Linked DNA regions of Homo sapiens. The protein of the gene in region 1 interacts with the protein of each later gene in a biochemical or structural test. Each region holds a gene or a part of one and is shown in the gene's direction. Other genes may lie near its edges. The genes, in order: RBPJ, NOTCH3, RITA1 and PTOV1.

Region 1 (7,891 bases):
TTTGTATTTTTTAGTAGAGATGAGGTTTCGCCATTTGGCCAGGCTGGTCTTGAACTCCTGACCTCAGGTGATCCACCCACCTCGACCTCCCAAAGTGTTGGGATTGCAGGCGTGAGCCACCATGCCTGGCTGAGACTTTCAAATTTATATAAAAGGGAGAAATTAGCCACCCAGCCTCAACAGGTTTTATCAATTCTGTTTCATTATCTCCATCACCACCAACACCTCTTCGTCTTCTAATTGCTGGAGTATTTTAATGTAAATCTCATCCTATCCTTTCAACCAAAATTTCTGCAATAGTGACTAATACATGCCCTTTTTTTTGAAACATCATTATACGTAACAGTTGACAGCAGCTCTTAAGTGTCATCTAATATCCTATTTCATGTACAGATTTATCAGATTGACCCAGAATGTCTTTTTATAGTTTTTTTGCTTTGTTTTGTTTTACAGTGGTTTGTTCAAACATGGATTCAGATAAGGTCCACACATTTTAGTCTGTAATAGTTTCTTCTCACCCTCTCTCACCTTTGTTTTCCTTCTATGTCATTTATTTGTTGAAGAAACTGGATCATTTTTCCTGTTGTGGAATTCCATATTCTGGGTTTGGCTGATTATATGTTTCTCTGTCTCTCTTACTTTCCATGAACTGGTGGTTAGACATAAAGACTTTCAGAACTGATTGGTAAGATATACATTTATTTCCATTGGATTGGAAGTCATAATATCTGATTATCCCCTTTTTTTTTTTTGGTCATGTTGAGATTGATTATAGTAGTTCAGCTGTTGTAAGTCTATTCCACCCATAAAGTTCCTCAGCAAACTTTAACCTAATGGTTTTAATAGTCATTGATGATGTTTAAATCCATTTCATTAAATGCTGCAAAATGGTGATATTCTAATTTTTTAAATTCTAACTTCTGCATTCGTTAGCTGGAGTTTTTTCTACAAAGAGGGACTTTGCCATATCAGCTATTTGCTTCAATTGTAATATGTAATGAAAAGGCAGGATTAGGTGCTTGTTTACTCATTTGCAGAATAATAACATTCCTTGAAAGTGACCAGTGGGGTTTTAGGGTTTTTGTTTTGTTTGCTTTCTTTTCATTTTGTTTTATTATGAGATCATGGTTTTTGTTGTGGTTGTTGTTATTGTTGTTGTTTTGTATTGGTTATATTTTAGTCCACTCAGTCCACTAATATCACTTAGTTTTTATTACGGAAAAATTTCAAACACTCTCAAGTAGACAGAGTTGCACCATACAGTGAAACCTCTTATGTTCATTCTCTAACGTCAACAGTGATCTTAACATTCAACCAATCTTATCTTCATCTATACCTGTACTCCAGCCCCACTTTCTTCTGCCCTTATTTTAGTTTGATGCATATCCAATCAGTGTTCAAATTTAAAATGGTCTAAAATATTTTAAAAATCAGATTGCTTGAATCAAAATTCAGATCTACCACTTAGTACAGTTTATATTGTGATATGTCCTTGAGTATAATCTATGGACACCCCCTCAACTCTTGCAATTTATTTAAGTAAGTTGAAACATTTAGTCACTAGAGATTTCCACGTACTAGATTTTGCTGATTTCATTTATTTGGTATAGTTTAATGTATTTTCTGTAAATTGGTAGAGTCAAAAAGAAATAGAGCGTGGGCCTAGTTGGAAAGACAGATTTCATTCAGTACTATTGCAATAGGGGAAAATAGAACCAAGTTCCATTTCAGAATACAACAAAGACACTTGGGGATGAAGCAGAGTGAGAGGGTCAATGGATGGAAACTTTCTAAAAGGAGACATCAAAGGTAGAAGGTTTCTTTCTGACCTGACTTAGGATTCCTGCTAAAGGCAGGCCAAGGTGATCATAGATCCAGAGTGGGAGATAGTTTAGGAGGATTCTTACTATATATAACTGAGCTAAACAGACTGATGACGGGGCTCAAGGACAAATACTAGTTGATTGCTCAGAGCAGCCTGCTTAAAAGTATGGTCAAGGAGAGAATCTTTAGTGTAGAATGGTGATCAGATTTAAGTTTGTTGTCCTTTGGTTCTTGTTTTCTTTCTGAAAAGCAAGACCTGCTTCAAAGGTGGTGGTGTGCTCTCTTGCACTAGGAGGTATATTATGTCTTGTATTCAGGCTATTTGCATTTCAGATTACACAGTTTTATGTAACTGCTTTAACTTTGTGTTTGTACTGAATATTAGTTTCTTGATGGCAGAGAACATATTTCACTTTCAGAATGTTTTTCTGCTTACATGGATTTATTTTCAAGAAATTTCATACAATACTTTATTTAGAAGAAAGCAGAATTTTCTGAAATCACAGTATGCAGAGGCATTTACCATCAACTCTGACAAACATCCTTCTGGTCCCTTTTCTATGCATGTATTCTGTGGAATTGGATGCAAACACATATTAAAAATATATACATTTGCCTAATGGAACCACAGCATACAGAGTATTTTATAGTCTGCTTTTCCATTCAGTGATATTCCAGGAAAATATTTTCTTATCAGTGTGTTTAGATACACATCCTTTCAATAGGTCATCATTTAAATTTCTACTGTCTAACATTATTTTAAAAGTAAGTTTTTCTCTAATAATCAGCACCACATTAAACATACTGTGTAGCTTTCACTTTAAAATTATTTTTATGGACATTTGATATCATTAGCTTGACATTATTAATAACAGTTACCTTGACTTTTTGATATCATCTGTACTGTCTTGGAAAGTGAAAATATTTGTCAAACTGTTAAATGATAAGAAAGAATAATTATACACTGCCAAGCAGAATTTCCTTCTTTTGCTCCCTCCCCACCTTCTGCTCCAATCACATAAATAAGAGCTGTTTTTTCTTTGCAGTATGCATTGCCTCAGGAACAAAGGTGGCTCTGTTTAATCGACTACGATCCCAGACAGTTAGTACCAGATACTTGCATGTAGAAGGAGGTAATTTTCATGCCAGTTCACAGCAGTGGGGAGCCTTTTTTATTCATCTCTGTGAGTATAAAAGTGTGCATTTAATGTTTTTAGTGTGAAATTGTTAAAATCTTTTGATGAGATACATGGATATATTAAGTTTTGTCATTTGCCTAATCATAAAATAAATTTAAAAAGATGACAATTTGATTTATTTTTCCACCTACTGCAGTGGATGATGATGAATCAGAAGGAGAAGAATTCACAGTCCGAGATGGCTACATCCATTATGGACAAACAGTCAAACTTGTGTGCTCAGTTACTGGCATGGCACTCCCAAGATTGGTATGGCTCTACTTTTGCTTTAGTGATAATGTGAAGTAAAAATTAATTTCTTAAACAGGAAAATCACAACATTCAAATGGAAAAACACACCTCAGTTTTATGCTTTTTAATTTTAAAAGGTATGTTAGTAATCAGTGCTGTTTATAATTGACAGTTATGCTCTACCTTATTTCAGAAATGCTTTAAGGTAATAGCCAGTTTTTACAAGTACATTCTTAATGATTTTTTCTTAAATGATTTCCAATATATTTTGGTGGCAATTTCCTTTTTGGCTGTTTATCTGAAGATGTTCAGTAGAGGGCACTATAAATTACATTTCTTTTCTTTACTAATGCGGATAAACCGTATTCATTTTTTTGTGGTACCTGCCATATCCCAATGTAGGACCAAGTTTGCAAACAGAAGACATTCTTATTTCTTTTGAAATATAAGCGTAATTTTTGTTAGCTTACTCTCTCACAAGAAGATAGATTTATTAAAACTGAAATAAAATTGGTATTTCTAACTGGGAGCAGGGCATAGGATTTAGGGCTTTTGTTCAATAGAAGACATTGAAACTCGGCCACGCATGGTGACTCACACCTGCAATCCCAGCACTTCAACAGGTGAAGGCAGGAGAAGGAGAAGTGACTAGCCCTGGCATCACTTGAGCTCAGGAGTTCGAGACTAGTCCTGGCAACATGGTCAGACCGTCTTTACCACTGACCCCGCCCCCCCAAAAAAAAAATTAGCCAGGCATGGTGGTGCACACCTGTAGTCTCAAGCTTAAGTGGGAGGATCACTTGAGCTCGGGAGGTCAAGGCTGCAATGAGCGGTGATCGTACCACTGGACTTTAGCCTGGGCAACAGAATGAGATCCTATCTCAACAACCACAGAAAAGGAGATCTTGAAATTGTAAAAACTACTTTTGTTAGTAAAATGAAAACAAAAGTCCTCTATAGTGCCACCACCCTCCCAATTTTCCCTCTCCTTTTCTCAAACAATATAATTTACTTATATTCAAGATGAAGGGGATTTATGAGTAAGTTTGATTCAAGGTCAGACTGAAGAGGTTGGGTGAGTAGAAGAACATTTAGTATTAATGTTCCTAAACATGCCTCCTATTTATCTTTTTGGTGCAATATTCCACTGGCTTATATTTTCTGGGGTCATTTCAGCAGAGGCTGGTTTGATCTACAGTTTTCTAAGCCAGTGATTCATTTCTTTGTTACTGTTTTTTTTTTTTACCCTCTGTCATGATTGTACAAGGTGATTTTATTTCCCATGTCAATGCAATAAGCTAGAAGACATGAAGTATAGTAATAGTAATCTGTAAAGCTTTGCAGCTGAGACAAATTATAATAAAAAGGGTAACGTTAGGGAATGAAGGGCATGAAAAACAGAGCAGGAGACAGAAGCAAGCAAAAAATCTGAATCAGCATTTATTCATTTTTTTTCTCTTCTCATTCATTTCCTCTGTTCCAAGGATGATGTTCATTTGCTTTGGTGTTAAATGCTTGTACTGCAGAAGCACAACTTAGGAGGATGATTCTGATCACCAATAGTTTATAATACAAACCACTTAGAAGACAGACCCAAATTTAAAACAATGTTTTCATTTACAGTTGTTTGTAAAGTACCAGTAGCCTGCCTTGCTTGAAAGTCATTAATTGAGGTTTTTACACTCAAAACTGTATGGCTTTATATAAAAATGTTGCAATGAAAAATTAACTTATTAGAAAAAGTTGCAGTACCATTATTAAGACGCTGATACATAAATCTTTCCAGGGGTTTCATGACAGGAATTCTGACATGCAAAGTCGAGTGCCTCTCGTCATTGAGTTTACATTTTGATAGAGTGATAAGCCAAATACCCATGTAAAGGATTTATGTAGTGATGAAAAAACAAAACAAGATAATAAAGGGATAGAGAATTGGAGGAGCGCTTAGAGAGGTCAGGGAAGTCTTTTTGAAGTCGCAGTATTTGAAGAGAGCCCAGAATGAAGTCAAAGAACCGGTAATTGAGTGAGGAGCATTTCAGGCAAACAGAACAAGTACAGAACTGAAGGCAGGGGATGTATGATGACTAGTAAAGAAACCAGTGGAGCTGGAGCGGAGGGAGGAGAGGTCAAGTGGCAGGAACTGAATCTGTAAGGTTAGCACTAAGCAAGACCTTGTAGGATCCCTCTCTGTATCTAGGGTAAGGACTTCATATTATCTCTGCATGTTAGAAGGCCACTGGAGGATTTTAAACGGGGCACGATGGCCTATTTTTGTTTAGAAGTATATGTGTGGCTGCTGTGTGGAGAAGAGAGCATAGCAATGCGGCCGTGGAAGCAGAGAGACAGGTGCTTGGATTGTTGTCATAATTGAGGCAAGAGTTGATGCTATCTTAGACCCAGGATCATAGTATTAAGGTGGTGAGGGGTGACTGATTTGTTGGAAAGTGGACCTGACAGAATTTGCTGGCAGATTGGATGGTTGGGTGTGAGAGAAAGCAAGGCATCAAGGGTGACTCTTAAGGTTTTTGGATTGAGTGAATGCTAGTGCCATTTATTGACCTAGATGAGTTGGGGAAGGATCAAGTTTAGGAGGAAATCCAAAAATCTGTTTTCGATATGCTAAGCTTGAGGTGCCTGTTAGACATCGTAAGTGGAAATGTTGAATAGGTAGTTAAGTGTACATACAAGTTGAATGCAGGAGAGAAGTCTGGAGATAATAAATTTGGGAGTTGTCAACCTTTAAATTTTTAAACAGTATAGATTATAAAGAGAGGAAAAGAGGGCTGAGAACTCAGCTCTGGGCATTTTAAAGGTCAGTTGGAGCAGTTGTGGTCCTGAAAGCAAAATGTGTTGAGAGCTTCTGAGAAAATGAAGTAAAATGAGGACAGAAAAGTGCCGTGAGATGCATCTGTCTGGAAATCCTTGGTGGCTTTGAAAAGCAGTTGTAGTGGCGTCTTTGAGATAAAAGGTTGGAGAGATTGCAGGAGATTGGACAGTGAGGAAGAGGCGTTTGCAGAAAAACAGGTAGTGAGAGGGAGGGACAGGAGCATGTAGTCAGTGTTTTCTTTACTTTTGATTTTGAGATGAGAGATAGTTATGTTTGTATGTTGTTGGAAGTGATCAATAGAAAAGGAAACAGAGTAAAAGTTCTGTGTCAAATTTTGCTCTTCATCATGATCATCTACTTAGCCATTACCTTCTAGGTGTCAAGTGTCATATAGGGTTTGATAGTATTATCTTTCAGATATTCATGTGTTTTGTAGACTAGTTGCGTTATAAGCTTTAGAGATCAGTTGGACAGGCAGCCAGCCCTGGGATCAGGACATATTCTGGTCCTTCAGCTACTAAACTGGTAATTTTGAGCAATTTGTCTGACCTTTCTAAGCCCATTTTGTAATCTGTAAAATGAGTTTGATTTTGTTATGTTTTTAAATACGTAAGTTTTGGATAATAGATATAAGACGTTTGCACTGACAGTAGCCTTCTAGAGATTTTTCCCTTTGATGTTGGAGTATTTGTCATTTTATGCATATTATTGGAAAATATCATTAGAACTTGCTGTTCAAAATATGGTCTGTAGGCCAGCAGCATTAACATCAACTGGGATTTTGTTAGAAATGCAGAATATCAGGCCCCACAAGAGTCCTGCTAGATCAGAACCTGTGTTTTTCACAAGAACCCCAGCTCATTTATGTGCACATTAATGTTTGAAAAACACTGATCTAGAAAACAAGTGCCTGCCTGCCTGATTTTTTTTTTTTAGATGTTCAGGGAAGAGGGTAACAGTTTCTACATTCTGACATGCTTGCAATCTAAAAGTGTTTTTTATTCCTAGTCTTTTTGTTTGTGAATGTTTTTATATATGTAGGCATAGGACAAATAACTGTGATGTATTATTATGCAGTATATAGCTTCTATGTACTTTTGATGTTTTACACAAGGAAAATCCTTTCCATGTGTGGATGACCTTTTATTTCTTAATTGTTAAATATAGATAATTAGGAAAGTTGATAAGCAGACCGCATTATTGGATGCAGATGATCCTGTGTCACAACTCCATAAATGTGCATTTTACCTTAAGGATACAGAAAGAATGTATTTGTGCCTTTCTCAAGAAAGAATAATTCAATTTCAGGTATGTTTTTAAATTACTGGTGAAATCTAAAATGTACAAACTGTGAGGTTAGCAGCTTGCAAAAATATGAAATTTTCATTTGCTGTTAATTATATACAAATACATGAAGCTATACACAGATATTTATCTCAGGTATGAGCATCCTTAACACACAATCCTCAGACATGCAAGCAATCCTTCCTCAAGGAAGAACTCAAAATTATGAAAATGTTCTCAGAGAAAACAGTTAACATCTAGTTCCAGGGTTCTTAATTGAAGAACAAAGAGCCCCTCAGGATATCCAAAAATAGATTTTCAGTGCTCATTGAATCCTCTGAAATTGTGTGCAAACATTGTATAGACAAAGCATTTTTCTGGGTGAAGGCTCAAAATCTCATCAGATTTATGTCGTGGTTTCCGAAGATAGTAATGATGACATGCTTTGAAAGCTAATGTTTTACATTTACTCAGAAGGCTTTCATGAGGTTATGACATGGGCAGATGATTTAATAAGACAGTTATG
Region 2 (7,799 bases), on another chromosome or scaffold:
CTCTTTTGCCCAGTCTGGAGTGCAGTGTCGCGATCTCGGCTCACTGCAAACTCCGCCTCCTGGGTTCAAGCGATTCTCGTGCCTCAGCCTCCCGAGTAGCTGGGATTACAGGCACTTGTCACCATGCCCAGTTAATTTTTGTATTTTTAGTAGAAAAGGGGTTTCACCATGTTGGCCAGGCTGGTCTTGAACTCCTGACCTCAGGTGATCAGCCGGCCTCAGCCTCCCAAAGTGCTGGAATTACAGGTGTGAACCACCGCGCCCGGCCACTAATTTTTTTGTTTTTTCCCCACAGGGTCTTGCTCTGTTATCCAGACTGGAGTGGAGCAGGATGATCACAGCTCACGGCAGCCTCGACCTCCTGGGCTCAAGCAACGCTCTCACCTCAGCCTCCTGAGTAGCTGGGACTACAGGTACGCGCCACTATATGCTGCTAATTTTTTCTAGTTTTGTAGAGTCAGGAGTCTTACTATGTTGCCCAGGCTGGCCTTGAACTCTTGGCCTCAACCAATCCTCCCTCCTTGGCCTCTCAAAGTGTTGGGATTACAGGTGTGAGCCACTGTACCTGGCCCAATAAAGGATATTATTTGGGCAACTAGCAAACTTTGAATACAGACTGGGGCAAAAACTGTAGTATGTTTATGAAAGAGGATACCCTTGTTCTCAGGAAACACACAGCAAAGTATTTGAAGGCAAAGGAACATCATATCTACAACTTACTCTCAAATCATTTAGCCAAAAAATGCATATATGCATATGTGTATAACGTATATGTACACATATATGTCAAATGTGGCAAAATGTGGGTGGTTGGTGAATCTGGACAAAGGGCTTATACAAGTTGTTCACGCTATTCTGTAACTCTCAGTTTTTTTTGTTTTTGTTTTGAAGTTGGTTCTTGCTCTGTTGCCCAGGCTGAAGTGCAGTGACATCCAGGCTCAAGTGATCCTCCCACTTCAGCCTCCCAAGTAGCTGGGACTACAGGCGCTCACCACTACACCCTCTTAATTTTATTTTAATTTTTTATAGAGATGGAGGTCTTGCTATGTTGCCCAGACTGATTTTGAACTCCTGGCCTCAAACAATCCTCCTGCCTCAGCCTCCCAAAGTGCTGGGATTACAGACATGAGCCACCACGCCCGGCATGCAACTTTGTGTGTTTTAAATTATTTTCGTCTTTTTTTTTTTTTCCTTTTTGTGGAGAATGGGGTCTCACTATATTGCCCAGGCAGGTCTTGAACTTCTGGGCTCAAGCTATCCTCCCGCCTCTTGCCTCCCTGAGAGCTGGGATTACAGGCATGAGCCACCGCGCCCGGCTTAAATTATTTTCAAATAAAAAGTTAAAAAAACTGTGGCCAGGCATGGCGGCTCACGCCTGTAATTCCAGCACTTTGGGAGGCTGAGGTGGGTAGATCACTTGAGGTCAGGAGTTCGAGACCAGCCTGGACAACATGGTGAAACCCTGTCTCTACCAAAGACACAAAAATTAGCCGGGCATGGTGGTGTGGGCCTGTAGTTCCACCTACTTGGGGTGGCGGGGGGAACTGAGGCAGGAGAATCGCTTGAACTCAGGAATGGAGGTTGTAGTGAGCCGAGATGGCACCACTGCACTCCAGCCTGGGCCACAGACCGAGACTTGGTCTTAAGAAAAAAAGAGTCCGGAAGTGGTGGCTCATGCCTGTAATCCCAGCACTTTGGGAGGCTGAGGCAGGTGGATCACCTGAGGTCGGGAGTTGGAGACCAGCCTGACCAACATGGAGAAACTCTGTCTCTACTAAAAACACAAAATTAGCCACACATGGTGGCACATGCCTGTAATCCCAGTTACTCGGGAAGCTGAGGCAGGAGAATCACTTGAACCCAGGAGGCAGAGGTTGTGGTGAGCCGAGATTGCGCCATTATACTCCAGCCGGGGCAACAAGAGCAAAACTCCATCTCAAAAAAAAAAAAAAAAAAAAAAAAAATTGGCCCGGCGTGGTGGCTCATGCCTGTAATCCCAGCACTTTGGGAGGCAGAGGAGGGTAGATCACCTGAGTTCAAGAGTTTGAGACTAGCCTAGCCTACATAGTGAAACCCTGTCTCTACTAAAAATACAAAGCCAGGCATGGTGGTGTGTGCCTGTAATCCCAGCTACTTGGGAGGCTGAGGCAGGAGAATCAGTTGAACCCGGGAGGCAGAGGTTGCAGTGAGCCGAGGTCGCGCGCCACTGCACTCCAGTCTGGGTGACAGAGGGACTTTGTCTAAAAAAAAAAATTGTCTGAAGATTTCTGGGATACCCATGTGACTATCTCCTACCAGAATGGTTCTCCCATGCTCAGCCATACCTGCCTTGTAGGTGACCCCCTCAAACCCAGCATCTCTCCTCCACCCAACCCATTCCTTCTTCCAGCATCCTTATCACCAAGCCAGATACCAAGGAGTAAGCATGGCTCCTTTCTCCTCTTAACCTCTGGCCTGTACACGTTCCCTTCCAACTCTGTCCCTTCCTGTTGGCATGGGCCAGTCCCTCTGCTGGGATGACTTCCCTCCAGCTCAACTTTCAGGGCCAAGCCCCACTGGACGTCCTCTTGGACGCCCTCCAGGGTGCACCCCCAGTCCATAGAACAGAGTGTGATACAGGGCTGGAGCCTTAGCCATACTTGTTGAATACATGAATGAACAAATAAATAACCCTCCCAGGCAAAGTCCTCACCCACCACCCGTGTACCCCAGGCCCTTCCCAGATTCCATGCCTTTCTCTGGCCCAGCCCTGAGCCCTCCACACTGGGTGTGTGTGCGTCTAGCTTTTTCTTCCCCAGACTGGAAGTTCCTCCAGGGCTGGGCTCCAGGCCTCTCAGGGTCCCCATTCTTTCCACAGGAACAGAGGGAGCTGCAGGAAGCCTGTGCAGCATGACTGATTTGGGAAAAGGCAATTGATCAAGGCTGGGCGTGGTGGCTCACGCCTGTAATCCCAGCACTTTGGGAGGCTGAGGCGGGCGGATCACTTGAAGTCAGGAGTTCGAGACCAGCCTGGCCAACATGGCAAAACCCAGTCTCTACTAAAAAAATAGAAGCTGGGCGCGGTGGCTCACGCCTGTAATCCCAACACTTTGGGAGGCTGAGGCAGGCAGATCACGAGGTCAGGAGATCGAGACCATCCTGGCTGACACGGTGAAACCCCGTCTCTACTAAAAATACAAAAAAAAAATTAGCAGAGCATGGTGCCAGTTGCCTGTAGTCCCAGCTACTCGGACGGCTGAGGCAGGAGAATGGTGTGAACCCAGGAGGCGGAACTTGCAGTGAGCGGAGATCATGCCACTGCACTTCAGCCTGGGCAACAGAGCGAGACTCCGTCTCAAAAACAAACAAACAAGTAAACAAAAACCCAGAAAAAATTAGCCACGTATGGTGGCGCACACCTCTAATCCCAGCTACTTGGCAGATTGTGGGGGTGGGGGCTGAGGAAGGAGAATCGCTTGAACCTGGGAGGTAGAGCTTGCAGTGAGCCAAGATAGGGACACTGCACTCCAGCCTGGGTGACAGAGCGACACGCTGTCTCAAAAAAAAAAAAAAAAAGAAAAGAGAATTAATCAAATTGAGCCAGATAGGCTGAGGCCCAAAGCTGTGTGGGGTATGGGGGTGGGACTAGGGGGCTGGGGTGACCCTTTGAGAGTCACAGAGGAAGTGGGTTGCTTTCTGGGAGGGCTGAGAGCAAGAAGAGTTTGTGTGTGCATGTGTGAACACACACACATGCATGTGACTCCTAGTACGTGTCTGAGGTCTGAGGCTGCAAATGTAGTCCTAGGCTCCTGGCCTGGCTGAGTGAGTTTTAGCGGTTTTTTGTTTGTTTGTTTTGTTTGAGACAGGGTCTTACTCTGTTGCCCAGGCTGGAGCGCAGTGGTACGATTTCGGCTAAGTGCAACCTCAGCCTCCTGGGTTGAAGCGATTTTCCTGCTTCAGCCTCTCGAATAGCTGGGACTACAGGCGTGCGCCACCACGCTCAGCTAATTTTTGTATTTTCAGTAGAGTCCGGGTTTCACCATGTTGGCCAGGCTGGTCTCCAACTCTTGACCTCAAGTGATCCATCCACCTCTGCCTCTCAAAGTGCTGGGATTACAGGCCGGAGCCACCGCGCCCGGTCCGACTTTTAGGTTTGTGAATGTTTTAGATCAGAGTCCTGGGGAAGCTTGGTGCATGGGCTTGCATTTGTGCGTCCGTGGCTGTGGGTCCATGAGCCTCTCAGGACGTGACTGGCCTCAGTTTCCAGAGTTTCTGGGAGGCTGTGTTTTTTGTCCCGGCTCCAGAGGTGTCCGGCTCTGGGTGTGTACTGGGGGATGGGGATGGGGTGCGTGGGCGTTCACGAGGTTGGGTGTGCCCGCCACTCCGGGTTCTGCCCGCGTCTCACTGCATGCTCGGCCTGGGTTTCCGAGGGTCCGCGCGTCCCAGGCTGTGCGGGTGGAGGGTGGGCAGGGACCCCGGGAGGCCGGGCGGGGGGCGGGGGCGCGCTGGGCCGGCCCCGGGGCGGGGCGAGCCTTCGAGGGCTGGGGGCGGGGCGGCCCGGCCGCCTCACTTCGGCGAAGTTGGCGGCGCGGAGGCTGGCCCGGGACGCGCCCGGAGCCCAGGGAAGGAGGGAGGAGGGGAGGGTCGCGGCCGGCCGCCATGGGGCCGGGGGCCCGTGGCCGCCGCCGCCGCCGTCGCCCGATGTCGCCGCCACCGCCACCGCCACCCGTGCGGGCGCTGCCCCTGCTGCTGCTGCTAGCGGGGCCGGGGGCTGCAGGTGAGGGGCCGGGACCTGGCGGATGGGACGAGGGCGGCAGAGGGGGAGTGCAAGAACCCCCAAGGCCGGGGCTGGCGGGGGTTCATGGGAGGCAGGAACCAGGGTCGGGGAAGGGGCGCAGGAGCCCCGGGCTTCATGCCAGTCCTGGAGGACCCAGAGATTCAGAATGGGGAGGACCCCAGAGGCCCAAGGAACAGGGACCCTTGAGCGATTAGAGCTGAAGATGAAGGGACCCAGGAGTCCGAGACTGGGAGCTCGAGGTGCGGGGATCAGGGACTCGAGGTGGGGGGGTGCGTACAGAGTTCGGGACTCGTCCCCATCCAACTCACGCCTGGAGTCCTGGGTAGGTTATGATTGGGGGCCCAGGTACTTCTAGGCCGGGGACCTCTCGCACAAAAGCCCCCCCACCCCGCCCCCGACACCCCGGGCGGGCTGGGCCAGGCGGGGGGTGGGGAGGGGGCGCGAAGTTCTGGGAGCTCTGAACTCGGAGAAAACTTCCCAGGCCGGCGCGCAGCAAGACCCGGAGCCGGATTCCGAGCCGGAGCCTCGGCGGCGCGCGCGCCCCCTCCCCCGCCCGCAGCCCGCCTCTCTCCTCTGGCCGCGGGGACCCGGAGGCCCTGGGACCCCGCCCCTGCGCGGGGAGGGGAAGGGGCGAGGGCCCACGTGCTCCCCTTCGGCTCCAGCGCCCCCTCCCCGCGGCCAGAGCCCCTCCCCAGCCGGCCAGGGGCCCCCGCCCCTCCTCCTCTCCTCCCTCCCCTCCCCCGCTCGGGACAATGGCCGCGCCGTCTAGACACCCCCTCCCTCCGGCCGGCCTCGCGCTTTCTTTGCCAGACAAAGCGGGACCCGCGGCTGGGCCGGGGAGGGGGCTGCGGGGGCACCCCCCTCACCGCTACGGGAGGCCTGGTGGGCGGGGGAGGGGCGCGGGCCAAGGCCCCTGGCCAGGGGTCCCAGACGCCAGTGTGGGGCTTGGCGCTGGGCGGGGTGGGGGTTTCGGGAGTGAACGGCCTCCCCAGCCCAGCCCCGGGGCCCGGACGGGGCAGGACCAGGCAGGAGCCGCCGCCTCCGCCGGACCAGCGGCGCACACACATGGCCTGTGACACACTCGCTGGCACACATAGCTCTAGGTCACGTAACAGAGATGCAAACCTGCACACACACAGCACACTCGCAGACTTGCACACCTGGCTCAGGAAAGACACACCCAGCTGCACGCACACAGCTCACACATTGACATACATACACACACAAATATGATCACACAGGTGTGGCACACACGCTGCCTGCACACACTCAGACAGCACATAGATGAAGACTCAAGGACATGCTTACACCCAGCTCACACATGCAGATGGACAGACACAGCCAACCCATACACAGACACAGCGGTGCACACACAGGTCACACCAACACACAGCTGTACACCCATTTACACGGTTCACATACACAGACGCACAACAGACACAACCTGCATACAGACAGCACACACATCTGTGCATTCCCGTATGGGTGTGCAGCTCATACACACACGGGCACACCCACGCTGACATGCATGTACAGATAGACTCACATGTAGCTGCAACTGAGACACAATAGATGCATGCCCAAATCCACATACAGACACACAAGCCCGTGCACGCACACACATGTGGCTCACATTGCCTACAGCTCAGGGTGGCCCATAGCCCATGTTATGGGACCCACAGTGTGAGTTCACGAACACCCACAGGTCCTGGTGTGGGTGATGGTGTCCAGTCGGCTTGTCCTGTGAGGAAGGGGCATATACTATGTAGGCCCATGCTCAGGTTCAGCTCGACAGATTCTGTAACTCACCCTCTTGTTTTCTATTTCTTTCTGTCCTTCTCTCTCTCTTTTTTTTTTTTGAGACAGTCTCACTCTGTTGCCAGGCTGGCATGCAGTGGCGCAATCTCGGGTCACTGCAACCTCCGCTTCCCAGGTTCAAGCGATTCTCCTGCCTCAGCCTCCCGAGTAGCTGGGACTACAGGCGTGCGCCACCACACCCAGCTAATTTTTTTTTGGAGATGGAGTTTGGCTCTTGTTGCCCAGGGTGGAGTGCAATGGCGTGATCTCGGCTCACTGGAACCTCTGGCTCCTGGGTTCAAGCGATTCTCCTGCCTCAGCCTCCTGAGTAGCTAGGATTACAGGCACCTGCTACCATGCCCAGCTAAGTTTTATATTTTTAGAACAGACTGGGTTTCACTGTGTTGGCCAGGCTGGTCTCGAACTCCTGACCTCAGGTGATCCACCAGCCTCGGCCTCCCAAAGTGTTGGGATTAGAGGCGTGAGCCACCATGCCTGGCCGCTTTCTATTTCTTTCTGTCCTTCTCTGTCTTCTCCTGGTCTATCTGCTTCTAGTTCATTCTCACGTCTTTGTGTTTTTCTCGATCTTCCTTCCTCTCTCCATCACCCTCTCTCTGACAAGAGCATGCATGGACACACGCACTGTGTCCCCACACCTGATCGCATGCACACAGTTCTCCACTAGCTCAGACCCAGCCACACCCTGGACCCTTCTGGCAGGACAGTTAGACTATGCCACACCCTAGAGGGACACAGCCCTTAGGGATGGCGATGTTGGACAGGGCAGCACATGCCTTGTGCCAGTTGCCCCTCCCTTCAACACACACCCTATTCCAGCAACGCCCAGCGCTGGCTGCTTCTGGAGATGCTGTGCTCACTCGTGGGTACATGCCTTGGTCCCTCTCCCAAGAGCACCACGCAGGCCTGCCTGGCTGGAGTAGATGCCCATCAGGGAAAGGAAGACCCGTGGCCCTAGGATCCCCTGCCCCTTCCCCTTCTATTACCCCTGAACCTGGGCATGAAGCCCCAGACCTCCCTGTAACACTCAGCACCCTTACTTCCTGTCTCAGCACACCCCATTCTGCACATCTTAGCTCTGGCAGCTTCCCGAGCCCCCACATCTGGCATAAGACAGCCCCTCCTCCTGCCTTCCCCTGCTTTGTGGTTCCCAGGGCTCGAGCTGGCAGGGACAGCTGCAGCCTCAACAGCTGGGGCTGGGGCGGGG
Region 3 (5,039 bases), on another chromosome or scaffold:
CAAGCGATTCTCCTGCCTCACCCTCCCTGGTAGCTGGGATTACGCCACCATGCCTGGCTAATTTTGTATTTTTAGTAGAGACGGGGTTTCTCCATGTTGGTCAGGCTGATCTTGAACTCCCGACCAGGTGATCCACCTGCCTTGGCCTCCCGAAGTGCTGGGATTACAGGCATGAGCCACCGCGCCTGGCCACAACACAAATTTATTTTGTCACAGTCTGGAGGCTGGAAGCCCAAGATCAAGGTGTTGGCAGGTTTGGTTTCTCCTGAGGCCTCTCTCCTTGGCTTGCAGTTGGCCACGTTCTCACAGTGTCATCATAGGGCCTTTTCTCATTTTTTTTTAATCCTTCAATTACATGCAAGGGCCTTTTCTGTATACACACACACCCCTGATGTCTCTTCCTCTCATAAGGACACCAGTTCTATTGGATTAGGATCCCCTACCCTTATAATGTTATTTAGCCTTAGTTACCTTTTTTTTTTTTTTTTTTTTTTTTTTTTTTTTTTTTTTTTTGAGATGGAGTCTGGCTCTGTCGCCCAGGCTGGAGTGCAGTGGCACCATCTCGGATCACTGCAGCCTCCACCTCCGGGTTCAAGGAATTCTCCTGCCTCAGCCTCCCGAGTAGCTGGCATTACAGGTGCACGCCACCATGCCTGGCTAATTTTTGTATTTTTAGTAGAGACGGGGTTTCACTGTGTTGGCCAGGCTGGTCTCAAACTCCTGAGCTCAAGTCGTTCTCCCGCCTCTGCTTTCCAAAGTGCTGGAATTACAGATGTGAGCCACCATGTCTGGCCAGCCTTAATTACCTTTAATTAATCTAAATAATTAAGGCCAAGTGTAGAGACATTTGGGGTTAGGGCTTCAACATATGAATTTGGGTGGGCACAATTCAGTCCATAAGAACTGGCCAGCTAAAGTTAGGGTTCATTCTGAACCACAGGGACATATTTCAGATGAGAGAAATGAAATGAGAATGGGAATGATACCTATTATAAAAACAAGAATCAGTTATTGCCAGTTCTGTAGACAAGGCAGGGTCAGGTGGAGATTAGCAACACTGATACCTACAACATGGCTGAAAACACTGAGGTAAAGATAGGCTGCATTAGGAAGTATGGTGTCCATGAAAAGGGAGGTGACAACTCCTTGCTCACCTGGAGGGTGGAATTTTCTTCTGGATGCCAACAGGTAGAGGGTGTCAAGTGAGGGGTTGCATAAGAGGTAGAGAAGTTATTGAGCAAAAACCTTGGCACCAGACATATACAGGCATTAGCCAATGTGGTTTGAGCAGCTAAACCAAGTGGCAAAAGCTTGCCCTTTCAAAGACTTGCAGTTTGGGGATAGAAGCACTTTCAGTCCTGGCCAAAAAAACTATGGGCGTGGAATCTTGCAGGTATGCCGTGAATATCTGTTGAATAAAAAAAAAAAAAAAAAAAAAGGCCAGACAGGCTGACTCAGGCCTGTAGTCCCAGCACTTTGGGAGGCTGAGGTGGGAGGATCGCTTGAGCTCCAGAGTTTGAGACCAGCCTGGGCAACATAGTGAGATCCCTGTCTCTACAAAAAATAAAAATATTAGCAGGGCATAGTGGTGCATACCTGTAGTCCCAGCTACTCTGGAGGCTGAAGTGGGAGGATTACTTGAGCTCAGGAGTTCGCAGCTGCAGCGAGCGTCACTGCACTCCAGCCTGGGTGACAGAGTGAGACCCTGTCTCTTAAAAAAAAAAAAAAAAAAGGCCGGGCGCAGTGACTCTTGCCTGTAATCCCAGCACTTTGGGAGGCCGAGGTGGGTAGATCATGAGGTCAGGAATTGAAGACCAGCCTGGCCAACATGGTGAAACCCCCCCCGTCTCTACTAAAAATACAAAAATTAGCTGGGCATGGTAGCACATGCCTGTAATCCCGCCTACTCAGGAGGCTGAGGCAGGAGAATCGCTTGAACCCAGGAGGCGGAGGTTGCAGTGAGCTGAGATTGCACCACTGCACTCCAGCCTGGGTGACAGAGCGAGACTCTGTCTCAGAAAAAAAAAGAAAAAGAAAGAAAGAAAAGAAAATGGGCACGGTGGCTTACTCCTGCAATCCTAACACTTTGAGAGGTTAAGGCAGGGGGCTGCTTGAGTTCAGGAACTCAAGACCAGCCTGAGCAACATAAATCTGATCTCTACTAAAAATCAAAAACAAAAAAATTAGCTGGGCTTGGTGGCACTGTGCCTGTAGTCCCAGCTATTAGGGAGGCTGAGGTGAGAGGATTGCTTGGGCCCAGGAATTTGAGGCTGCTGTGATCTGTGACTGTGCCACTACACTCCACTTGAACAACAGAGTGAGATCGTGTCTCACAAAGAAAAGAAAAAGTGGAGGCTATAAAGACTAAGGTTATACTAATTGTGACTCTCAATTGCAAGTGACAGAAAACTTATTCAAACTGGCTTCCCCAGGAGAAGGCATGTGGGGCTCCTGTAACAGGGGCTCAAACTGTGGCTGGAACTGTCTGTCTCCACCTTAGTGCTGCTTTTCCCTGCATGCCCTTCAATCTTCAGTAGGAAGGAGATAGCCACAAGCTGCTTTGGGCTGACATCCTATCAGCTTAGCAAGAAGTAAAGTCAGGTGGCAGAAAGACATCTCTTTCCTAGTGGTTTCTGCAAGGTCCTAAGGCAGATTCTGATTGGACAGGCTTGGGTCATCTGGCCATTCGTGAACCAATCCATGTGGCCAGGAGGATGGAATATGCAAATTGTCCAGGCCTGGGGCACATGTCTGGGAATGGGGTCAGGATGCAGGGGCAGTGGATGTTTCGCAGGGAAAATCAGCAGAGACCGGGGGCAGTGGTGCTTAAGAGGCTGTGGCCTCGCTGTAGGTTTCAGACTGGGAGACAAGGACTCCTGGGATCTGCAGGCAACCCTCCTCTGCTGCTGCCATCCCAGGGTGGGTGGGAGAGCTGTTAAAGTTTTGAGGGGTTGTTCATCCCCCAGCTCATGGCGTTTATCTTCCATTTGCCAGACCCATCAGCCACACCCCGTCTTACTGTGATGAGTCGCTGTTTGGCTCCCGATCTGAAGGCGCCAGCTTCGGGGCCCCGCGGATGGCGAAGGGGGATGCCGCAAAGCTCCGTGCTCTCTTGTGGACGCCACCACCTACCCCCAGGGGTAGCCACTCGCCCCGCCCCAGGGAGGCACCACTGCGAGCCATTCACCCAGCTGGTCCCTCCAAGACAGAGCCGGGGCCAGCGGCAGACTCCCAGAAGTTATCTATGGGTGGGTTACACTCTTCACGCCCCCTGAAGCGGGGACTTTCCCATTCCCTCACCCACCTGAATGTCCCCAGCACTGGTCATCCAGCCACCAGTGCCCCCCACACAAATGGGCCTCAGGATCTCAGGCCTTCCACGTCAGGGGTGACCTTCCGGAGCCCCCTGGTGACTTCCAGGGCTCGCTCAGTTAGCATTTCAGTGCCATCTACCCCACGACGAGGTGGGGCCACCCAGAAACCAAAGCCCCCTTGGAAATGATACTCTTTCATCAGGGTTGCCTATGGGGCCACGGCGACAGGTATGGCCCCTTGCCAGGGTAGGAGGACATTCATCACCCAGGGAACCCCAGGTATTAAAGAAGCCCCTGTGGGGGCAGACAGACATAGCAGGGGTGGGCAGTGCCTCCCTTTATCCTGACAATCTCTAGTCGATTCTTGCCTTTTTCTCCCGATTGCGGATTTGGGGGCCACCTCTAAGATGCCTCTCTCCAGCCCTGTCTCAACCATACTCCAAATTAGTGCCAACCCAGGGGCCTGGCACCTCCCACATCATCCATTGTCTTGCTGCCAAGTGCGAATAAACGGCGTGATTGCCAACCTGGAGGGTCCCCTCTTATCCCTTCAAGCCAAGCTTCCTGCTCAGGATTAGTTTCCAGCTAAGTCTGCAAGCCCTAGAGGAGTTTTTCCAGGCTGTCTGTGAAGCCTGGGGAACACAACGGCAACTGGGAGATTTGTGAGTGAACACTGTTTCATCTTAATATGCTTCTGAATTTATTTTCATGTACTAAATAGATCAGCTCATCAAAGCCATGAATGTCACTTTTTTTCCCCCTCAGGGTAAAGGCCATTGTTAGGCCTGAGTTGATTTAAATAACAAAGTTAAATACAACAGATAGTACAAGGATGTGGCAGGCAACATGACAGCGGTGAGTGGGTAACTGAAGTTTGGGAATCTGGGGCTTCGGGAAGCGCTGGACTCTTCCTCCCGTCGGCTTCTGGCTAATGCCACTAACTTGTGGTTGGCCGGCTCTTCCTTAGCTCAGAGTACAGACAATAGTATTTTTTTAGTTTTGTTTTTAAGTTTGTTTGTGTGTGTGTGTGTGTGTGTGTGTGTGTGTTAAGGTGGGAAATAAAACACAATGGCTAGGACTTTGCCAAGTGGAGGGTCCAAGAAAGCCAGACAGTGACATGTGTGTCTGCAGAGCACTTAGGATGCAGCCCAGGACTTAGGAAAAGCAACAAAGCCTTTGCGCAGATGGAATTGCACCCAGATTGGGCAGTGTGGGCTGGGCTCTGGGCCTCTCCTTGCCCCCGTCTTCCTGTAAGGCACCTCCAGGAGGCACCAGGATTTTAGGGAGTCCAGTTGGAAGCCACATCATCTGGTTGGTACGTCTGCCTTGGGGCAGGGAAGAGTGGACACTGCTGGGGAGGGAGACCTGCAGTGCCCAGGACCAGTGACACACAGAAACACCTGTGGGGTCAGGCAGGCCAGCTGTGCTCTCATGCAAACATGCTTTGTTTTTTGTTTGTTTGTTTGTATGTTTGTTTGTTTTTGGTGTTTCTTTTTTTTGTTTTGTTTTGTTTTTTAAGACACGGGGCCTCGTTTCCTTGCCCACCCTGGAGTGCAGTGGTGCGATCATAGCTCACTGCTGACTTGACCTCCCGGCTCAAGCCATCCTCCCCCTCAGCCTCCTGAGTGGCGGGGACTACATGCATGCACCACCATGCCTGGCTAACTTCTTTTAAAAATTTTTTTGGACTGGGCGCGGTGGTTCATGCCTGTAATCCCAGCACTT
Region 4 (8,431 bases), on another chromosome or scaffold:
AGTTCTTGAGAAATATTAACTACTATTATTGCCAGGGGTCTCACTCTGTCAACCCTGGAGTGCAGTGGCATGACCTTGGTTCACTGCAGCCTCTGCCTAGAGGGGTCAAGCAGTCTTCCCACCTCCACTTGTCGAGTAGCTGGGACTACAGACACGCACCACCATGCCCAGCTAATTTTTGTATTTTTTGTAGAGACAGAGTTTTACTCTGTTGCTCAGGCTGGTCTCGAACTCCTGGCCTCAAGTAATTCTCCTACCTCAGCCTCCAGAGTAGCTGGGACTAGAGACATGTAACACCACGCCTGGCTAGTTTTATAGTTGTAGAGATGGGGTCTTGCTATGTTGCCCAGGCTGGTCTCAAACTCCTGGGCTCAAGCAATGCTCCAACCTCAGCCTCCCAAAGTGTTGAAACTACAGGTGTGAGCCTCTGCGTCTGGACACACACGATGATGACAAAGTTGAAATACCTAGAGTTTGCAAAGCATGTATCAGGCAGACCTTTAAAAAAAAAATCAGCCATAAACTATTTTGTAATTGCAAAGAAAGAAAAGAAAAATCCAAGCCAGAGATGATCTTACTCCCATTTCTTAGCATAAAGCATTTTATTATCTTTTTTATTTGTTTGTTTTGAGACGGAGTCTCACACTGTTACCTGGGCTGGAGTGCAGTGGCACAATCTCAGCTCAATGCAACCTCCGCCTCCTGGGTTCAAGTGATTCTCCTGCCTCAGCTTCCCAAGTAGCTGGGATTACAGGCACCCACTACCATGCCCAGCTAATTTTTTGTATTTTTAGTACAGACATGGTTTCACCATGTTGGCCAGGCTGGTCTTGAACTCCTGACCTCATGATTTGCCCGCCTCAGCCTCCCAAAGTGCTGGGATTACAGGTGTGAGCCACCGCACCCAGCCTATTAGCATTTTTTGAGACAGAATGTCGCTCTGTCGCCCAGATTGGAGTGCAGCTCACTGCAACCTCCGCCTCCCCGGGTTTAAGCAATTCTCCTGCTTGAATTGGAGGATCAATCAGGAGACTGTATTTGTATTCCTGAGTAGCTGGGATTGCAGGCGCCTGCCACCACGTCTGGCTAATTTTTGTATTTTTAGTAGAGATGGGGTTTCACCAGGTTGGCCAGGCTGGTCTCCTGACAACAGGTGATCCACCTGCCTCAGCCTCCCAAAGTGCTAGGATTACAGGCATGAGCCACCGTGCCCGGCCAGTATAAAACACTTTGTCCATGTTGTCATTGTGTCCTAGCCTATGTCATCCAACCTATATGTACTGCCAGTTTGTTCTTCTAGGAAACTCAGACTTGGTAGTTGATTGGTTTAACAAATGTTGGTTAAACTGGGATTATTTGGGAAAAAAAAATTGTGTATATCAGGAAAGGCCAGATTACCCCCAGATTGCAGTGGCTTGAAACAGCCAAGGTGGATTTTGTCACTCGTGCTGTATTGAGTGTCAGCTTGGAGCCCGTGCGGACAGATCATGAAGGTTGCCAATGGACATAGTAAAGGCAGAGGGGTCTGGTCTTCCATTAGCAATTATGTGCTCTTGCTGAATTCACATGTGTCACTTCTGCTCATATCTCATTGGCCAGATGTAATCACATGGCCTCACACCTTACTGGCCAAAATTAATCACATGGCCGCACTCAAGCTAAATGGGGTCAAATGCTGGCCAAGTGTGGAGCTAGAAATATATGGCAAATAGCACTAACGGCCATCTTAACACTTTAAACATCTTATTTTAACCAAGAACATTTAAACAGACATCTCTTGTACGTAGGACCAAGACCCTTTCTTTCAGTATTGGTCTCCTAGTTAGCACACGACATTACATTCTTGTTTTTGAGACAGGGTCTCACTTTGTCACTTGGACTGAAGTGCAGTGGTGTGAACACGGCTCACTACAGCCTCAATCTCCTGGACTCAAGAGATCCTCCCACCTCAGCCTCCTGAGTAGCTGGGACCACAGGTGCATGCCACCATGCCTAGAAAATTATTGTTGTTTTTGTAGAGGTGGGAGTCTCACTGTGTTGCCCAGGCTGGTCTCGAGCTCCTGGGCTCAAGCAATCTTCCCACCTCAGCCTCCCAATGTGTTGGGATTACGGGCATGAGCCACTGCGCCCAGTAGAACATCACATTCTTGTATAAGCTCCACCCACAAACCACAATGAGTCATTTTTTTAAGTGGCTTGAGAACCTAAAGACATTTATGAAACAAACTGGGGGCTGAGTCTTCCTAGGTTTTTATAAGCTTTTTCATTAAATAATTTACAGTTGCTTTACTTGTACCTAACTTGGCAGCATTTTTTTTTTTTTAAGAGATGGAGTCTTGCTTTGTTGCTCAGGCTGGAGTTGCAGTGGTGAGATCTCAGCTCACTGCAACCTCCACCCCCTGGGTTCAATCGATTCTCCTGCCTTAGCCTCCAGAGTAGCTGGGACTACAGGCATACACCACCATGCCCGGTTAACTTTTGTATTTTTAGTGGAGACGGTGTTTCACCATGTTGGCCAGACTGGTCTTGAACTCCTGACCTGAAGTGATCTGCCCACCTCGGCTTCCCAAAGTGCAGAATTACAGGTGTGAGCCACCACGCCTGGCATGTTTTTCTTTTAACAACTCCCTTTTAGTCTTTCCAAAGCAAGCAATCTGGTTTGTGTATAAACAACTGTCTTGCATTAATTTCATTAGTTTGATAGTAAATTAAACAAGAACTTCTGGCATAAACAGGTTTGGATCAAACAGCTACCTTTCAGGAAGTAAACAGCTTGAGAGATGGAAGTGGAATTGCTTAGTCATAATAGTAGCCTGCTAGCCCCAGCAGTGGGCTTCACAGATGAAAAGGAAAGTGTCTTTCAAGTTGGTGGACCGAGTTAAGTGAGATGGTTTCAGAGAGTTTTGTTGCAGTATTACTGATAGAATTTCAGCCTACATTTTCATTTCACTTTCTGACATGAGTTCCCATTTTGCTCACTCTGGAGTACACCCTGGTATACCGCTCTCCATGCTTATACAATTCAGGGCATTCAAACTCACGTGTGTCCTGATGGGTTCTGAGGGATGGGAAGGCATTAACAGGTAGAGAACAGGAAGGATGGGAGAGAGATTTTTTGGGGGGCGGCAGCAGGGGCCACAGTACCAAGTTTGGATTTAATTCTAAAGGCACTGGGAAGCCATTGGATGGTTTTGATTATTGTAGTGACAGAGAAGGCAGCAAGAGTTAGGAGACGTCACCCAGGCAAGAGATCTTGATGGTTTGGACCAACAAGAATGGGGAGAAGTGAGGATTCCGGGAGATTAAAGCAGCTCCTGTTTTTTCTCCTTCCTGCTGCCAGGTTGTCCTCACATGGGTGATTGACAGGGCATTGGAGGTACCTGTTGATAACTAACTTGCAGTTTGTGTTCAGGGAGCACTGACTCCGTTTGGCCACAATGCAGGTTGGATTTGGGGTTTAAGGCTGGGCTCCAGTCAGCCCTCGGGAGCCCCTGGGCAGGAAAACATGGACAGGCCTACGGGTTCTTCTGCCATTTCACTGGCCACTCCTCCGTGTCCTTTGCTGGTTGCTTCTCATTGTCGTGACTGCTAAAGGGATGAGTGTCCCAGTCTCTTTGTGAGCTCATCCAGTCTCCATTCAAACACTGATGACTCCCGAATTTCTCTCTCCAGGCTATGACATCAATATCTATCTACATTGTTTAGTCAACATCCGAAACAGAAGTAGGGACTCCGTCTCTAACCTCCTACAGCTGTGTCTATTTCTCCTCTCTACCTTCACTCGACTCCGCCCACACTGGCTCCCTTTTATTCCTTCTACTTTCAGGATTTGTCTTTGCTGTTCTGTCCTCTTTGCACACTTTTCCAGCCATCTGGAATGGCAGGTTGCTCACAGGTCGTTTTCTTGACTTCCCTTGCTTGCTAACTTTACCTCGCTATGGTCATATCCCATCGCCCTGTGGATGTGCGCTAGTTAACACTTAGCACAGCCTGTGATTATGTCTCTCCCCAGTGGACCGTGGGGCCTGTGAGGGACGTGGTCTGATTCGGTCGTCGCCGAGCACAGAACTGGACAGGGTACTCATAACAGATTTTTGTTGTTGTTTTTAAAGAAAAGCTAACATTTGAGTAGTGACTGCGCCAAGCAGTCAAGCACAGCCCCTCGGGCTCGATCCCCATAACCACTCTAGGGTTAGGTATTACCCACGTTTAAGGAACAAAAATCGAGGGAAAAATCTTATACAACTACTAGTAAGTAGTCATTCCATTTTAGCAGAGCGAATGAGCGAATCCACGGAAGGCCGGGGAGCGACGTGAGTGGCGAGAAGCTTGGAGTCGCCAGGGACGGCGGGCGGAGCCTGGGCGCCGGGGCTAATGGGCGGAGCCTCCAGGGACAGCTGGCCCCGCCCAGGCCGCGCGGGGCCCGCTGGGAGTTGGAGTCCCTTGCCCACCTCGCCACGTCACCGACTGCAAACCTTCAGCTGTCTCAGGCTCGGGTGCAATCCGTACCCTCAGTGGGTTCCCTTTCAGTGGGTTCCTTTGTCCCCAGGCCCATTATTCCGTCCTCCCCTCTTCCCTGATGTATTTTGGCGCGGTCTCCTGGCTCTGCGGGCCCAGGGCTCCGGATGAGGTCTCCCGCCGTCCCGACCCCCGCAAGGGGCCAGCTTGGTGTCGCCTTCGTTCTTCTGCCACCCCATTCGGTAGGGGCTCCCGTTCCCGCCACGCCCCCTGAAGTTGTGGCTCGCGCGTCTTCCCAGGACTCCCCCGCGCCGGAGAGGCCCGCAGGACCGCCGAGCCCACACTCCGCTCCCGCCCGGGCCCCGCTCCCCCGCGCCGCCTTGGTACGCTCCGGCCACGCCCCCTCGGACGCGCTTGGTACGCGCCGGGCTCCCCCGCTCGCCTCAGTGGTTCGGCCGCGGCGACCCCACTCCGGCGGCGCGTCCCCCGAGCTTGGTACGGCTCAGCCCGTCTCCCCCGAAGCCGCGCGCCCGCGCCCGCGCCCCTCAGTCGGTGGAGCCCGCAGCCCCCCTTGTGGCCCGCGGCAGCTCCCCGCCCGCTCGGCCCGCGCCCGCCATGGTCCGTCCGCGCCGTGCCCCGTACCGCTCCGGCGCCGGGGGCCCCCTCGGGGGTCGCGGCCGCCCTCCGCGGCCCCTCGTGGTGCGCGCCGTCCGCTCGCGCTCCTGGCCTGCCAGCCCCCGAGGCCCGCAGCCTCCGCGGATCCGGGCCCGCTCGGCCCCTCCCATGGTGAGCCCCCCGCCCTTTTTCCAGAGCCTTCCACGGCCCCGCCCCCCCAGCCCCTATCCCGGGCTCACGCCTTTGTCCGCAGCCCCCGCCGCTCCGGGGTGTCCCCTGTGGCCCGAAGGGTGGTCCCGCCCGGGGCCGGGTTCCCCCGTGGAGCACCCGGTGGTTCGCGCCGCGCTCTCCCCTTTGTTGCGCGTTCGGGCCGGGGTGGGGGGTTGGGGGACGGGGGCGGGGCGGGCTCATATTACTGCTGACTCCGCGGCCCGATTTAAACGCGGGCTGGGGGCGGCAGACAGGCAGCCGGCACGCTCGCTTGTTTTTCCTATTGGAGAGTTGCTCGCTCTCCGGGCAGGAAACCTGGAAATGGGGGCGGTTTTGGGGGACAGCGGCGAGGGAGGGGCCCGCGCTTTGTACCAGCGCCCCCAGATGTCGCACCCGTGGGCGTTCTCCCCTGGCGGCCGCTCCGTGCCCGTGGAGTGCGCACCTAGAATACGCGCCCGCGCCCACATGTGGGATGCTTTGATGGACTGCCGTGAGCCCAGACCTTAAACGTAAACATTCAGCTTCGCAGGTACTTTGGGCTGCACACGCTTCTCCGGACCCAAAAGATGCACATGCTTTTCAGAAACCGTAAGGTTTACCTGGGGCTGTAAAACCGCACATCGCGACTTTGCACCGTGCACACGCTTGCCCCGATGTGAGATTTCCCCTGGGTTCGCGCTCGGGTCCGCTTCTTAAATACACTGCCTCAGCGGTGTGGATGGCACAGAGCTGTGGCAGCCCTACTGAAACCTTAAACAGGCTTCCTGGGGTCATAAACATGGATACCGAGACTTAGATCACCTCCCACAACTTAAACGTACCCCTTCACTCCACTGCCTTCGCCCCTTCCTGCAGCATTCGCATCTAGTTGTTCAAAAGTGCTTTCCGGGTCCTCAGACATGCACCCCAAGGTTTTAAACCTCAGTGCAAGTACTAGATGGGCTTCCCTGTGCAATAGGGATGTCAGGCGCGCAGTTTTGCACACGATTGCCAAGATGTGAGATTTACTTTAGGTTGCACCTTAACCGTCGTTTTTAAATATGATCGTCCCATCTTGATGTGCTGCTCCTGCTGTGGAAGGTATCCCTGGGTTTTAGGCAAGCATATGTGTTCTTTACTATGGCTCCAGATCCCAGCATATTTGAAGTCCTGAGTCAACCTGCTCTCCTAGACAAGCAGACATTAAGTATGTCGCTTGGGCTCTTAAGTGCGTTCTCCTGACTTTTACCCATCTTTGTGGCAGTAAATGCATACGTGTCACTGTATATGCGGACTAGATACCTCAGGTCCCAGCGCCATAAACAACTTGTATGTTGTAAGTGTACCCTCATCTCGAAAGTCACCTCCAGCTGTGCGTTTTAACTCATCTCAGATGCTGGATGTCCGGTATGGTGCCTGAAGCCCCCGGGGCAACATCCACTCTCTGTCCAACTCATTCTAACGCCAAGATACTCAGGTTTTCTATCTGATCTTCTGACGACTGCCCAAAAGTCAGAATCACCTGCGTGGGTGAAGAATCACCTGCGTGGGTGGAGAATCACCTGCGTGGGTGGAGAGCAAGTTTGTTCAGGTTTTTCTCTTTTTAAGCACTCACAAAATAAAATTTTTTGTGTTTGCTAGTATTCTGGAAGGAAAGATCTCCTTGTGCTTCATAGAAAATTTGGAAAATACCTGTTTGTAATAAGATAAAAATAAATCACCCTTATAATTTGTTTTCCCCCGCCTGGAGGCGCCTATTACGGGGAAACTCTCGTGGGTTTCCTGCTGCCAGGCTGTTTGCGGAGCTTTCCCTTGTTTGCTTTGAGATGTTTTTGGTTTTAAAAAACAATAAGTGAGGTCAGGCTTGGTGGCCCTCGTCTGTAATCCCAGCACTTTGGGAGGCCGAGGCGGGCGGATCACTTGAGGTCAGGAGTTCGAGACCAGTCTGGCCAACATGGTGAAACCCCATCTCTACTAAAAAAAAAAAAAAAAAAAAAATTAGCCGGGCATGATGGCGCGGCTTGCAGTGAGCGAGGTTGCAGTGAGCTGAGATCGCACCACTGCACTCCAGTCTGGGAAATGAGTGAAACTCTGTCTCAAAAAAAAAATAGTAATAAAAATAGTGGGGAGAGTGCCTGTGAGTAGCATTTGTGGCGTTGCTTGGCTTTATTGCTAGAACTTTCTCTTGGTGTTCTACATGTTTTGGTCTGTGAGACCCCTCTGGGGGTGGTGTCCCAGCTGTCTTCCAAATGTTTCCCCCTTTTCCTCGCTGTCTTTCTCCTGGATGGTTTAGTCCCCTCTGTGTTTCTTGTCATCTCCTTCCTGCCTCCCCCCGGGGTCAGACTTATAAGGCCAGAGAGGTGGGCACTGGCCTGAGCCAGAGGAAGGAATTGAACTTTGGGATGACAGGGAGCTTTAGGAGAGTTTCAGCCTGGGAAAGACAGGGCAAGCTGGTGTGTGGGACAGACACAGCGCAAGCCGGCTTGTGCCTGTGGAGGCTGCAAGGAAGCCCTGGGCCCAGCCTGGGGCACGGGGAAAGCCCCCTACAGCTGGCTTCTAACTTGGGTCTCAAGAATCGATCAGGCGCACAGCTGGGGCAAAGGCTGGAGGTGGGGCTGGCTGAAGGCTTCAGGACTCTGCTGGGCCAGTGTCAAGGTGACAGCAGGCTCTGGGAAGGAAGGGTCCTGAGGGTGGGCAGCGGGAAAGGACATGAGGACCAGCGTGTGGGGGTCCTGAGGGGTGAGCAGAGGGTTTGGACATGGCCCCGTGGGCTTCCAGCAGGGGATTTGGGGCTGAATATTGGGACGTCCCCTCTGGGGTGTGTGGGGACTGCCTGTCCTTGCAGGCCCCGGCCTCAGTTTTCCCACCTATCCCCCACTCCATTGCAGGAAGGTGCTCGGGTCTTCGGGGCACTGGGTCCCATCGGTCCCTCCTCACCTGGGCTCACCCTCGGGGGTCTGGCCGTGAGCGAGCACCGGCTCAGCAACAAGCTGCTGGCTTGGAGCGGCGTCCTCGAGTGGCAGGAGGTGAGTCTCTGTGGGGCTGCGGCTGGCCTCCAGGGTCTTGTCTTGTCCCTGCGGGGACAGGCCAGGGCATCTAGGCTGTGCACAGTGACGCCCCTCCTGCCCCCACAGAAGCGCAGACCCTACTCTGACTCCACTGCAAAGCT

The links.
Region 2: the proteins of RBPJ (region 1) and NOTCH3 form a complex in vitro, tested with the Homo sapiens proteins (one study listed by BioGRID).
Region 3: the proteins of RBPJ (region 1) and RITA1 form a complex in vitro, tested with the Homo sapiens proteins (one study listed by IntAct).
Region 4: the proteins of RBPJ (region 1) and PTOV1 form a complex in vitro, tested with the Homo sapiens proteins (one study listed by BioGRID).

What each region holds. Positions count from the first base shown.
Region 1 is NC_000004.12:26,421,472-26,429,362, forward strand, and holds part of RBPJ (recombining binding protein suppressor of hairless), read left to right. Parts: intron 1-2,870; coding exon 2,871-3,008; intron 3,009-3,159; coding exon 3,160-3,272; intron 3,273-7,248; coding exon 7,249-7,389; intron 7,390-7,891. UniProt on the Homo sapiens protein: Transcriptional regulator that plays a central role in Notch signaling, a signaling pathway involved in cell-cell communication that regulates a broad spectrum of cell-fate determinations.
Region 2 is NC_000019.10:15,197,745-15,205,543, reverse strand, and holds the start of NOTCH3 (neurogenic locus notch homolog protein 3 precursor), read left to right. Parts: upstream 1-4,548; 5' UTR 4,549-4,638; coding exon 4,639-4,756; intron 4,757-7,799. UniProt on the Homo sapiens protein: Functions as a receptor for membrane-bound ligands Jagged1, Jagged2 and Delta1 to regulate cell-fate determination.
Region 3 is NC_000012.12:113,188,316-113,193,354, forward strand, and holds the end of RITA1 (RBPJ-interacting and tubulin-associated protein 1), read left to right. Parts: intron 1-2,994; coding exon 2,995-3,502; 3' UTR 3,503-4,053; downstream 4,054-5,039. UniProt on the Homo sapiens protein: Tubulin-binding protein that acts as a negative regulator of Notch signaling pathway.
Region 4 is NC_000019.10:49,846,256-49,854,686, forward strand, and holds the start of PTOV1 (prostate tumor-overexpressed gene 1 protein), read left to right. Parts: upstream 1-4,903; 5' UTR 4,904-5,073; coding exon 5,074-5,244; intron 5,245-5,312; exon of another isoform or gene 5,313-5,421; intron 5,422-8,150; coding exon 8,151-8,288; intron 8,289-8,335; exon of another isoform or gene 8,336-8,396; coding exon 8,397-8,431. UniProt on the Homo sapiens protein: May activate transcription. Required for nuclear translocation of FLOT1. Promotes cell proliferation.